Homo sapiens: one gene and its partner. The protein of the gene in region 2 interacts with the protein of the main gene of each other region in a biochemical or structural test. Each region holds a gene or a part of one and is shown on either strand. Other genes may lie near its edges. The genes, in order: RGS4 and KCMF1.

What was found.
Region 1: the proteins of KCMF1 (region 2) and RGS4 interact in a test that uses a peptide from one of them, tested with the Homo sapiens proteins (one study listed by BioGRID).

The regions. Positions count from the first base shown.
Region 1 is NC_000001.11:163,072,313-163,077,547, reverse strand, and holds the end of RGS4 (regulator of G-protein signaling 4), read right to left. Parts: intron 5,154-5,235; coding exon 5,049-5,153; intron 4,744-5,048; coding exon 4,682-4,743; intron 4,551-4,681; exon of another isoform or gene 4,271-4,550; intron 4,171-4,270; exon of another isoform or gene 4,093-4,170; coding exon 3,926-4,092; intron 3,228-3,925; coding exon 2,988-3,227; 3' UTR 746-2,987; downstream 1-745. UniProt on the Homo sapiens protein: Inhibits signal transduction by increasing the GTPase activity of G protein alpha subunits thereby driving them into their inactive GDP-bound form. Activity on G(z)-alpha is inhibited by phosphorylation of the G-protein.
Region 2 is NC_000002.12:85,023,038-85,030,330, reverse strand, and holds part of KCMF1 (E3 ubiquitin-protein ligase KCMF1), read right to left. Parts: intron 2,443-7,293; coding exon 2,275-2,442; intron 1-2,274. UniProt on the Homo sapiens protein: E3 ubiquitin-protein ligase which accepts ubiquitin from an E2 ubiquitin-conjugating enzyme and then transfers it to targeted substrates, promoting their degradation by the proteasome.

The DNA of each region.
Region 1 (5,235 bases), on a different chromosome or scaffold from region 2:
CCCAGTGAGAGTCTGACACATCTATAGTATAAGAGAAGAATGATAGTTTTGAGGGGAGATTCTGAGAGTTTCCCCTCAAAGCACACAAAATTTAGATTCCTCTCTGAATTTTTTTCTTAAAAGATGGTTCGGTCCATAGTTTTTACCAGATCCGTAAATGGATCTATTTCTCAAAAGTGTTGAAGATCATCTATCCTTAACACCTTGTAACTACTACTCTTACAATGGGAAAGAAGGGTCAGGAAATGGGAGTCTCATGACATAATAGACACAGCACAGGGCCTATTACTGAGGATGTGAACATTTTATGACCTCTTTTCCAGGAAAGAGAATTAACAAAAGGGAGGGAAGGATTTTTGAAGTTTGGGTAAGAATCTATAGCTCCTTTCAACTCTCTCAATTTCCCACTGCTCTATCATCTCTCAAACAGGCGGGTAACTGGAAATAAAAGAATGGCTCTGGAAGGTGAACTCTATCCCTTGAAAATTGATTGAGAATCTGCAAGCAAATCACTTAATCTGTTTTGCAGTCTCTGAAGCTAAGATTGCCTTGGTTCTATGAGTAGAGCCAAGCAGAGCAGTGGCATGAACTAAAGAATAAACAATATTCAGTTTGTACTTTCTTTCCCAGAGTTCACTGGCACAGGAGGGATTAAAGACTCAGTATGAGTATTTTTCTAAAGTCACCCTACACCCTGATGTTTCTCATAGCATGTCTCTGGATCATTAATGTGTTTCCAAGCAAATAGTTTCATATGGAGCGTTTATTTACCCTTATTATTAAGATGCGTGTGTTTCACTGGAAGCATTAGCTTTGAGGCCTATCAAGCACATGATAGAAACAGGCATGCAAAAGGAAGGAGTATTCTGTCCAGGGAGCATGAGCAGGCAAGCTCACCATTGGAAATAGTGATGAAATAACAGGGAAATACAACTGAAAAACACACTCAAAAATGTATTACATAAAATAATTTACTTCTCATTCAGCGTGACCTTCCAGACCTATTAGTAAGACAGCAGTCTGTGAGTTCAGATACAATCTGAAAGTCATGACAATTATAATAGGGCAAGACCAATAAAGTTACACATTTGAAGTCAACTAGAGACAAAATTGTGGAACTGTGTATAACAGAAAATGACACTGATGAGGAACTCCAGGGATATTAAGGGCAAGATTGCCAGAGAGACAAGAAGGGTACAATTAGAAAACCTGCATCTTTAATACAGTGAGATTTGTATGCATACACTCTGGTGTCTTCATTTTGCAGCCCATTATATTGGCTTAAAAGCCAGAAAGGTGCTCATGCATGTAATTTATACTGGAGCAACGAATGCAGTGTATGTGGACGCGTGTGTGTGCACTTTGAAAGGCAGTAGTTTTAGAAGAATGAGAAGAAAATTACTTCCTGGGCATTCATTAATAATTCAGGTGATATCCTGTACCTCCATTTATAAAACAATATAATAATAATAACACGTACAAAATAACATCATAAATAACATAAATGAGAAGTTTTCAAGTATTTCAATGTGCCTTGAAAAGTTTCAAACAGTAATTCTCACAATTGGTTAGACAATCATTTTTTTTTTCTTTTCTTTTCCTCTCATTTAGTCTCAGAGCCTAAAAAGAAATGCCTCCAGTCTCTGTTAGCCCCGATGTTTGGAATGAAATTAACAAGATTCTACCTTAAAAGAGAAAACTTATGTGGGCTTTTCAAATTGTGAAAATTTGTTCCCTCTTATAAAATATAATCTTTCCCCTGCTGCTGGTTTATAAATATAGGCATATAGCCCAGAGCCATTATAAAGAAAAAACAACCAACCACAATAAACTAAGGAGCCTCATCTGATGGCTAAGGTTCTCAGGAAAAAATGAGAAGAGCACCTTGATCAGGAAAGGAAAAAAGGATAGAGGATAAAAACAGTAACCTTTAACTTCTATGCCCTCACTCAGCCAGTAACTTACGGCAGGTGTTGCTGGCAAGGCCTTAGCTGTATTTCTTCATTAAGTTGAACATCCTGTCTGCCAACTCCATACCAACCCAGCTGCTAATAAGCATGCCCTGAGCACCCAGGAAAAGAAGGGAAGGCTGGCAGCTTAGGAGCTCAAAAGTGCCATCAGAGAAAACCAGCTCAAGGGAGCTAAGGTATTTGCTCCTTAGAATAGTGCTCAAGGTGGAGGCTGTCAGTGGTCAAATCAAGCATGAAGTTCCTTGGATGCTTCTCCAGCAAGATCCATGGAATTTTACAAAACCAACTTTCCACAGGTTAGCATTTCTTTCTTAGCCTACATGGCAGTTAGTTCATTTTGCCCTGTTCAAATGTAGTATGAAAGAACAGAGATCAAAACACCCATGTAAGTACATACACATACTCTAGTTATGAGCACCTAGGGTCTTTCCCATCACTCTTGCAAAAGTGTGTGTGTGTGTGTGTGTGTGTGTGTATACATACACTCACACATACATATGTATACACAGACATCTATATACAGAAATAATGTATATGTGTGTCTAATGTATATATAATATATACACATAGACATACACACAAGCACATATCATAGCTCAACCTCATCTAAACATCTAGAGTCTGGAGAACGTGCTGGCCAACAGAATACATGTGCATGTGGATGTCATGTGACATGCACTAACCAACCATCCCGAGGTAAAACTGTTGGGAGGAGGAAACTGCCAACAATCTTTGAAAATCCAGACCTACCAGGCCATTATTTAGATATTTGCTCCCATGGAACCCTCAAAGAAACTTAGGAAAATTGGACTGGAATGGGGTCCCACCCTGATGAACACTCAAACACCAAAAGCTATATCTAGTTTATGCGTAGAAGTGACTCACACATGGCAGGCAGCATGAATATTAGGCTACAATGTGGATAAAGCACTGGAGCTTAATACAGATCAATATTTGGCCTCAGGTTTTCCAGAGCATAGAGTCTTGGCATTTCATCCCTCTGCCTTCAGGTGAGAATTAGGCACACTGAGGGACCAGGGAAGCACAGTCTGCTGAACTCTTGGCTCCTTTCTGCTTTTCTGCCCCACAGCTGGACGGGTTGACCAAATCAAGATAGAATCGAGACTTGAGGAAGCGGCGGTAGGAATCCTTCTCCATCAGGTTGAAAATCTTCTTCTGGGCCTCATCAAAGCAGGTTATTGTAGGCTCTAGCATGTTCCGGCTTGTCTCTTCCCTGGTGCAAGAATCCAGGTTCACCTGAGGGGCAAAGGCCAAGGCTTCATTAGACCTATATCCCTGTTGAGGATGCAAGCCTGTATGCTTTGTAGTGACTTGTAAGTGGCAGTGCACCCTCTGTATTTCAGAAGCAAAAAACAAAAGTGACATTGGGGTCCTCCTTGGCACATGTGAGAGAGTATGAAAGGTTCAGAATGAACCTTTCTGCTTTAGAGAGAGCAGGGCAAGATCTTCTGTTCTGTCTAACAAATTGGGGAGATTCATCAGAAAAATTCATGCAGGGAGGTTATGGTAAGCCACATGGATAAAAGAGATTTTTTAAAAAACTGATTTATTTGGGGTTGTCAAGATTATGATAGTCAGCTCCACTATTCTAGGAACCTTCACTAAGATCCAGAGAGTTCTCTGCCATAAAAGCTTACCTTTTTGGTCAGGTTGGCTAATGGGTAGAAGGAATAGATAGAAAGTTGGGTAGAGGGAATAGGTTCTAGTGTTTGATAGCACATTAGGGTGATATAGTTATCAATAGTTTATTGTATATTTTAAGATAGCTAGAAGAGGAGATTTGGAATGTTCTCAACACGTAGAAATAATAAATGTTTGAGATATGTATATAGCAATTGCCCTGATTTGATTGTTATCACATTGTATGCATGTATCAAAATATCACACATACTCCATAAATACGTACAATTTTTATGTATCCATAAAAAACCTACCTCTTTGGTTGCCTGGACTGAGATGAATTCATTATAGATCTTTTTGGCCTTGGGACTTAGTTTAGATGGTGATTTGATTTTCTTGTACTCTTCACAGCTGATCCAGAAGTCAATATTCTCCTCACTATATTCAGACTTCAAGAAAGCTTTGAAAGCTGCCAGCCCACCTATGATACAGGAGAAAGGACCACAGTTGTCATCACACTGGTTGGCCTCTTGGATATGCTATTTCACATAAAGCTGAGGTACTTGGGGGATAAAGCATGGATTCAAGCAATCCCTTTTTCCCCTGCTTTTTTCAAGTCACCTGGAGTCAGGTAACCCTAATCTGTGTTTGATATCCAGTGGTTCCCAGTTCTACCTAATGATTCTTACTCAAGTTGGAAGCCTCTTTCAAGGAAGTATTTTGCTTCTGAAATGCCTATGCAGCTATCAATTACCAAGGTCAATTTGGGAAAGAGAAACTGAGATTGATTTTGCAAGAAGGTATTGATATTTATCATTTTTTTTCTCTCTTCCGTTTTTCCTTGTGATGAGAGAGATGGTTTTCCACATGGTTCCTGCATAAACTTTTCATTGTATATCACAAAGCTCTAGGGCATATTAAAATTTTAAACAGACTGAATTTAAGACCTAAAGAGTCTCCTGAGTCTGAACATCAGAAAGAAGCCAGGCCTTGCTGCAGTTTCTATTAGACCAGCATAATATAACTTGTCTTATCCAGAGTACCTCATCCCAGGTTGCTGTCAGACTTACATTCATGACTAATCAGGTTTTCCAGTGATTCAGCCCATTTCTTGACTTCCTCTTGGCTCACTCTAGAAAAAATAGAGAGAAACAGAATAATTGGAATGCCATGGTAAAAAAATTGGGGCAAGAAATCTAAGATCCTGAATGAAGGCAAAGATTTTATTTTCCATCGTTATGACAAAATATGTTATTGATGAGGGCAGTTTTTCACTAAATGTATAGAAATTTCAAATGTAGTTATGATCTCCATGAAAATGGAGGCTATCTTGATCCAAATCTGGCTTAACTAGGAGCACAAGTTCCTTCTCACAGAACATCCCCATCATCAGATAGTTAATACTAAGTACATCTTCACCAAGGCCTTTTCTCTTACCTCTGGCAAATAACCACTTTGTCCTTCTTGTTGTGGGAAGAATTGTGTTCACAGGAATCAGATTTTTGCAGCAGGAAACCTAGCCGATGTTTCATATCTTTTGCACTGCACAGAAGAGAAAAAAATGAATAAATAGTAATAACCAGCTTTCTTTAAAAGATACCTAATGGTAGAGCTTGAAGAGTCC
Region 2 (7,293 bases):
AGTTTTGTGCTTCAAAGCACACCACCAAGAAAGTGAAAACACAACCCACAGAATGGGAGAAAATTTTTGCAAATCATCTATCAGATAAAAAAACTTACATAAGGAATAAAAAACTATTACAATTCAATAACAAAGACACATTATCCAATTAAAAAATGGGCAAAGGATCAAGGTATTTCTTCAAAGTAGATATACAAATGGCCCATAAGCACAAGAAAAGATGCTCAACATAATTTATATTTCAGAGAAATATAAATCAAAACCACCTGAGATACTACTTTACACCTACTAGGATGGCTGAAATAAAAAGGACAAAAAGTGTGGGCTAGGTAAGAAATTATAGCACGAAGCCAGGCGTGGTGGCTCATGTCTGTAATCTCAGCACTCTGGGAGGCCCGCAAGTGGATCACCTAAGATTAGGAGTTCAAGACCAGCCTGGCCAACATGGTGAAACCCTGTCTCTATTAAAAATACAAAAAAAATTTTCTGGGCATGGTGGCGGGCACCTGTAATCCCAGCTATTCAGGAGGCTGAGGCAGGAGAATCGCTTGAACCCAGGAGGTGGAGGTTGCAGTGAGCTGAGATGGCGCCATTGCACTCCAGCCTAGGCGACAAGAGTGAAACTCTTGTCTCAAAAAAAAAAAAAAAAAAAATTATAGCATGAAACATTTATATATTTTCTTACAATGTCTTCTAATCAACTGTAGAAACAATCTGCCTTTTTTTTTTTTTGAGATAGCGTCTTGCTTTGTTGGCCAGGCCGGAATGTAGTGGCACAATCAGGGTTCACTGCACACTTGACCTCCTGGGCTCAAGTGATCCTCCCATCTCAGCCTCCCAAGTAGCTAGGGCTACAGATGCATGTGCGCCACCACATCCAGCTAATTTATTGTATTTTTCGGGGGTGGATGCAGAGACAGGGTTTTTGCCATGTTGCCCAGGCTCATCTCAAACTCCTGGGCTCAAGTGATCTGACCATCTTAAGCCTCCCAAAGGGCTGGGATTACAGGCGTTAGCCACCATAACCAGCCAACAATCTGTTTTCTGGTCACTACAAAAGCTATTATTGCTGGGCATGGTGGCTCACGTCTGTAATCCCAGCACTTTGGGAGGCGAAGGCAGGTGGATAACTTGAGGTCAAGACCAGCCTGGCCAACATAGTGAAACTTCATCTCTACTAAAAATACAAAAAAATTAGCTGGGCAAGGTGGCACACACCTGTAGTCTCAGCTACTCAAGAGGCTGAGGCACGAGAATTGCTTGAAGCCAGGAGGCAGATGTTGCAGTGAGCCGAAATCCGGCCACTGCATTCCAGCGTGGGCGACAGAGTGAGACTCTGTCTTAAAAAAATAAAAAATAAAATAAAATAAAGCTATTATTTGTGTGTTAATAGCACGAACAAAAGACAGAGCATATTTCTTCTTTACTGAAGCACTCTTCTATTTCATTCCTTGTCAGTTGTGTATATTTCTGAATGGTTTTTTTAAACAAGTAAACTATGATTAAGATGAACAGACAGAATTACTTAGTACGTAAAAAGTAAGGCCGGGCGCGGTGGCTTACGCCTGTAATCCCAGCACTTTGGAGGCCGAGGCAGGTGTATCATTAGGTTAGGAGTTCAAGACCAGCCTGGTTAACATGGTGAAACCCTATCTCTACTAAAGATACAAAAAATCAGCCGGGCATGGTGGTGCACGCCTGTAATCCCAGCTCCTTGGGAGGCTGAGGCAGGAGAATCGCTTGAACCTGGGGGGTGGAGGTTGCAGCGAGCTGAGATCACGACATTGCACTCCAGCCTAGGCGACAGGGTAAGACTCCTCAAAAAAAAAAAAAAAAAAAAAAAAAAAGCCAGGCACAGTGGCTCACGCCTATAATCCCAGCACTTTGGGCGGCTGAGTCGGGCAGATTGACTGAGGTCAGGAGTTCGAGACCAGTCTGGCCAACGTGGTGAAACCCTGTCTCTACTAAAAATACAAAAAAATTAGCCAGGCGTGGTGGTGTGCACCTGTAATCCCAGCTACTCGGGTGGCTGAGGCAGGGGAATTGCTTGAACCAGGGAGGTGGAGGTTGCAGTGAGCCAAGATCGCGCCATTGCACTCCAGCCTGGGCAACAAGAGCGAAACTCCGTCTCAAAAAAAAGTAAGATTTATTTCATGTTTAATGAATTTGGGGCTTATGGTATGCTGCTGGGGAGTTTTAGAACACTTTGCCTTTACTTCTTCAACGTACATAAAATTCTAAATGATGTAATTCATTAAATTTTTAATTACTTACCAAAATCTACCCTTGTTAATATGCACTGCATTGGGTGGTCAGTTGTATGCCTTGTTGTTGTTGCACCACTTTCATAACAAGATGCACAAAGATCGTAATCGTAGCAAATTAAACACTTATATCTGCGACCTCGAAAATTTCCTTTTAAACATGCATCACAGCTGACACCTATAAAAAAAAGAAATATCTTTAGTTACCAGTTGTAAAGGCCACTCTTGATTTCATTTTTATGAATGTTTCAGGTGCTCATTTAACCTCATATGTCCTTTCCAAAATGACTAGAAATGACTTAGTAAAATGATACGGGAAGTTTTAGCCATGTGCTGGATTCATTACTCTGATTTATACTCCACATGAAAATAATTTAAAATGACTGATACAGGCTGGGTGCAGTGGCTCACGCCTGTAATCTGAGCACTTTGCGGGGGTCGAGGCGGGTGGATCACTTGAGGTCAGTAGTCCAAGACCAGCCTGGTCAACATGTTGAAACCCCGTCTCTACTAAAAATGCAAAAATTAGCTGGGCGTGGTGGCTGGCACCTGTAATCCCAACTACTTGGGAGGCTGAGGCATGAGAATTGCTTAAACCCAGGAGGTAGGGTTGCAGTGAGCTGAGATCGCGCCACTGCACTCCAGCCTCACAACAGAGTGAGGCTTTGTCTCAAAAAAAAAAAAAAAAAAAAAAAAAAAAGCCTTGATAAGCCAGCAAGAAGGTAAAAACCAAGACGAAGAGGAACTGGTGACTGGAAGCACTAAAGAAGGCTTTTCACCATGAGGGTATTTGCCCAAGCAGGTAAAAATCTAAGCTTAAGGTCCACAGCATTATTGGACAAAGGCCTAGTGAAGGTGGGATAATTAACAGAAGATTCCTCATAAAACCAAGACCCTAATATACTCTCAATGCATGGGTAGGCTAGAAATCCTCCCTAGGGGATTACAAAAATTACCCCAGTGAAAGCCCCCTGCCCTAGGGGCACAAAATAACACAAAAAGCCATAACCACAAACCAGTCCTCATGGGTTTATAGCCCAAATTCTATCAAATGGTTCCAAAGACCTTGGGTCAAGAATTTTAAGTGGTCTTAAATTAGAATTGATACCAAGCATCTGGCATATATAAACATCCAAAGAATAAGTTCATAATTTAAACCATAAAATACACACAAAAAAACAAAGCACCATCAGAAAGAACTAGCAGGAGCAGCAGAATCAGTCATGAGTTCATATCAGAATTGGGGCATCAAATAATTCTTGACCTGTTAAAAGAAATAACTGGGTGTGGTGGCTAACACCTATAATCCCAAGCACTTTGGCAAGGCGAGGCAGGGGGATGGCTTGAGGCCAGGAGTTCAAGACCAGCCTGGGCAACATAGAGAGATCCTGTCTACAAAAAAATTTAAAAATTAGCTGGGCATTGTGGCCTGTGCCTGTAGCCTTAGCTACTTGGAAGGTTGAGGTGGGAGGAATGCTTGAGCCCAGGAGCTCGAAGCTGCAGTGACCATGATCAAACTACTGCACTCCAGCTTGGGAACAGAACAAGACCCTGTCTGGAAAAAATAAAAATAATAATAATAATAATAATAATAATAATAATAATAAAGGAAAGAAAGAAGCTTGAACAGGGCTGGGTGCCATAGCTCACACCTGTAATTCCAACACTTTGGGAGGCTAAGACAAGAGGGCTGCTTGAGGCCAGGAGTTCAAGACCAGCCAAGGCAACATAGAGAGATCTCATTTGTATTTGTTTAAAAAAAAAAAAGTTAAAATATGCCAGGCGCAGTGGCTCACGCCTGTAATCTCAGCACTTTGGGAGACTGAGGTGGGCGGATCACCTGAGGTCAGGAGTTCAAGACCACCCTGACCAACCTGGTGAAACCCCATCTCTACTAAACATACAAAAATTAGCCGGGCGTGGTGGTGGGCGCCTGTAATCTCAGCTACTTGGGAGGCTGAAGCAGAAGAATGGCTTGAACTCAGGAGACGGAGGTTGCAGTGAGCCGAGATCATGCCACTGCACTCCAGCCTAGGCGACAGAGTGAGACTCTGTCTTTAAAAAATATTTTTAAAAAAGTTAAAATTTAAAATTCTGTAGGTGGGTTTCATAGTTTTATTCACATGTGATCTGCTTGTTTATGCTGAAAACCCAAATACAGCTAAGTTATTAGAAGCAGTAAGCAAAGCTGTTAGATAGAGACCTCCTAAATAAAGTACTGATTGTATTTCTTCACTGCAAAACAGACAGAAAAACATATTATTAAAAATATGTCATTTATTACAAAAAAATTAGTGAGGCATGGTGGTGTGTGCCTGTAATCTCAGCTACTCGGGTGGCTGAGGGAAGAGAATCACTTGAACCCAGGAGGCAGAGGTTGCAGTAAGCTGAGGTTGCGCCACTGCACTCCAGCCTGGGTGACAGAGCGGGACTCCTATCTCAAAAAACCAAAAAAATGTCATTTGTGATTCCATCGAGATGTGCCAAATTCAAAGAGAAGGAAAGTAGAACAGTGGTTGCCAGAAGCTTGAGGAAAGGGAGAACGGGGAGTTACGGTTTAGTGGGTAGAGAGTTTTCAAGTTTGGGATAATGGAAGAATTCTGGAGATGGACAGTGGTGATGGTTCCAAGAATGTGAATATACTTAATGCTACTGAACTGTACACCTAAAAGGGGTTAAAATAAATTTTATGCTATGTATATTTTACTGCAATAAAAAAATAAGCCATTTGCAACAGCATTTTAAAAAAGTGCCTATGAATAAATCTAACCAAAGATAGGCAGCCCTTTATGAAGCAAATTAGTAAAAATGTATTCAAAGACACTAAAGGACTTTAAAAAATATAAATACCAACTTCATGGACTGGAAGGTTCATAATAAAATGTCAACAGATTTGTGGATTCAATACAATTAATAACCAAAATTTAAAAAGAATTTTTTTGTGGGGCATGGTAAGCTGACTCAAATGTTGATGCAAGTTACAAAAAGGGCCAAGGAGAGTCAAGATGCTCCCAAGAAAAATGAGATAGAGGGACTTGTTTTATATATCAAGAGCTAAACTAATAAATAATAAGTAACACCATAACAAATAATAAACCTATAATAACTACAGTAAGATGGAATGGCACCAGGGTAGAGACAAACTGGCCCATGGAATAGAACGGAAAGACCAGAAACAGATGTTGAAATCTGTTTTACAACAGCAAGGTCACTAAAGAGCACTGAGAAAAAAAGGGAATGGACAATAAATGGTGCTGAACAGGTGATTATCTGCATGTGGGGAAAACAGAATTGGATCTCTCCCCATATCCTATACACACAAAAAATCAATTCCACATGGTTTAAAGACGGATTCAAAAGAACAATGAAAAATATCTCTAGAAGACAATATAGAATATTTTTATGAGTCTAAAGTAGAAAACAATTTCTTAAATCTTTCTCTTTCTCACACACACACGCGCACACACACACACACACACACACTCTCTCTCTCTCTCTCTCTCTCTCTCTCTCACTCTCCAAATCAAAAAGTAAGAGATAAGTCCAACTACGTTAAGACTTTTTCTTCATCTTTTGTTTTTGTTTTATTCTTTTGAGATAGAGTCTCACTCTGTCGCCGGGGCTGGAGTGCAATGGTGAGATCTTGGCTCACTGCAACCTCCGCCTCCTGGGTTCAAGCAATTCTCCTGCCTCAGCCTCCCAAGGAGTTGGGATCATAGGCGCCTGGCACCATGCCCAGCTAATTTTTGTATTTTTAGTAGAGACGGGGTTTCACCACGTTGGCCAGGCTGGTCTCGAACTCCGGGTGATCTGCCCGCCTGGGCCTCCCAAAGTGCTGGAATTACAACAGGCGTGAGCCACCACGCTCGGCCTTTTTCTTCGTCTTTTCACAGCCTACATTGATTGAAAATATAAGGTTCAGAAACTGGCGATATGTACAACATACATGACAGACAAAAGTTTGGTATTCAGAATGCATTATGAACTCTTACATATCAGTAAGTAAATGATGAATGCTTAGTAGAAAAATGGAGAAACCTGTCAAAGGGCACTCAAAGAACAACAAACATAAATGGCCAGTAAACATATGAAAAGATGCTCAATCTCATTAGTCATCAAAGAAGTGCATGATTAACATCCGTGAGCTAGCATTTTACATTTACCAAACCGGTAAGAAACTACAAGTTTCATGATATCAAGTGTTAGTGAAGATAAAGGGCAGCAGAAGTGCTTATACCCTGCTGGTAGGAGTGTAAATCAGCACAACCACTTTGAAAAATTTGTTCATATTTTTAGTCAAGTTAAACACATATACCTCCTATGATACCGTAATTTCACTCTTAAATAAATTCCCGGGGAGGGAATCTTTTGTCTGTGTGCACCTAGAGAATGTGGAAGAATGTTGACGGCAGTTTTTGTAACTGAATTTTAAAAAGGCTACTCAGGGGCTGGGCGCGGTGGCTCACGCCTGTAATCCCAGCACTTTGGGAGACCGAGGCGGGCGGATCACAAGGTCAGTAGATCGACACCATCCTGGCTAACACGGTGAAACCCCGTCTCTACTAAAAATACAAAAAAAAATTAGCCAGGCGTGGTGGCGGGCGCCTGTAGTCCCAGCTACTCAGGAAGCTGAGGCAGGAGAATGGCGTGAACCCAGGAGGCGGAGCTTGCAGTGAGCTGAGATCGCGCCACTGCACTCCAGCCTGGGCGAGAAAGTGCGAGACTCCGTCTCAAAAAAAAAAAAAAAAAGGCTATTCAGATTCAAAGGCTCAACAGTTCAATATGCACAGAATGAATTGGAAAAAGAATGAATCACAGCAACGGTAAGAACATCTGCCTCAGATGAGTGAAAGGAAATTTCAAAGAATACATACAGTATTGGCCGGGCGCGGTGGCTCACGCCTGTAATCCCAGCACTTTGGGAGGCCGAGGCGGGCGGCTCATGAGGTCAGGAGATCGAGACCATCCTGGCTAACACAGTGAAACCCCGTCTCTACTAAAAATACAAAAAATTAGCCAGGCGTGATGG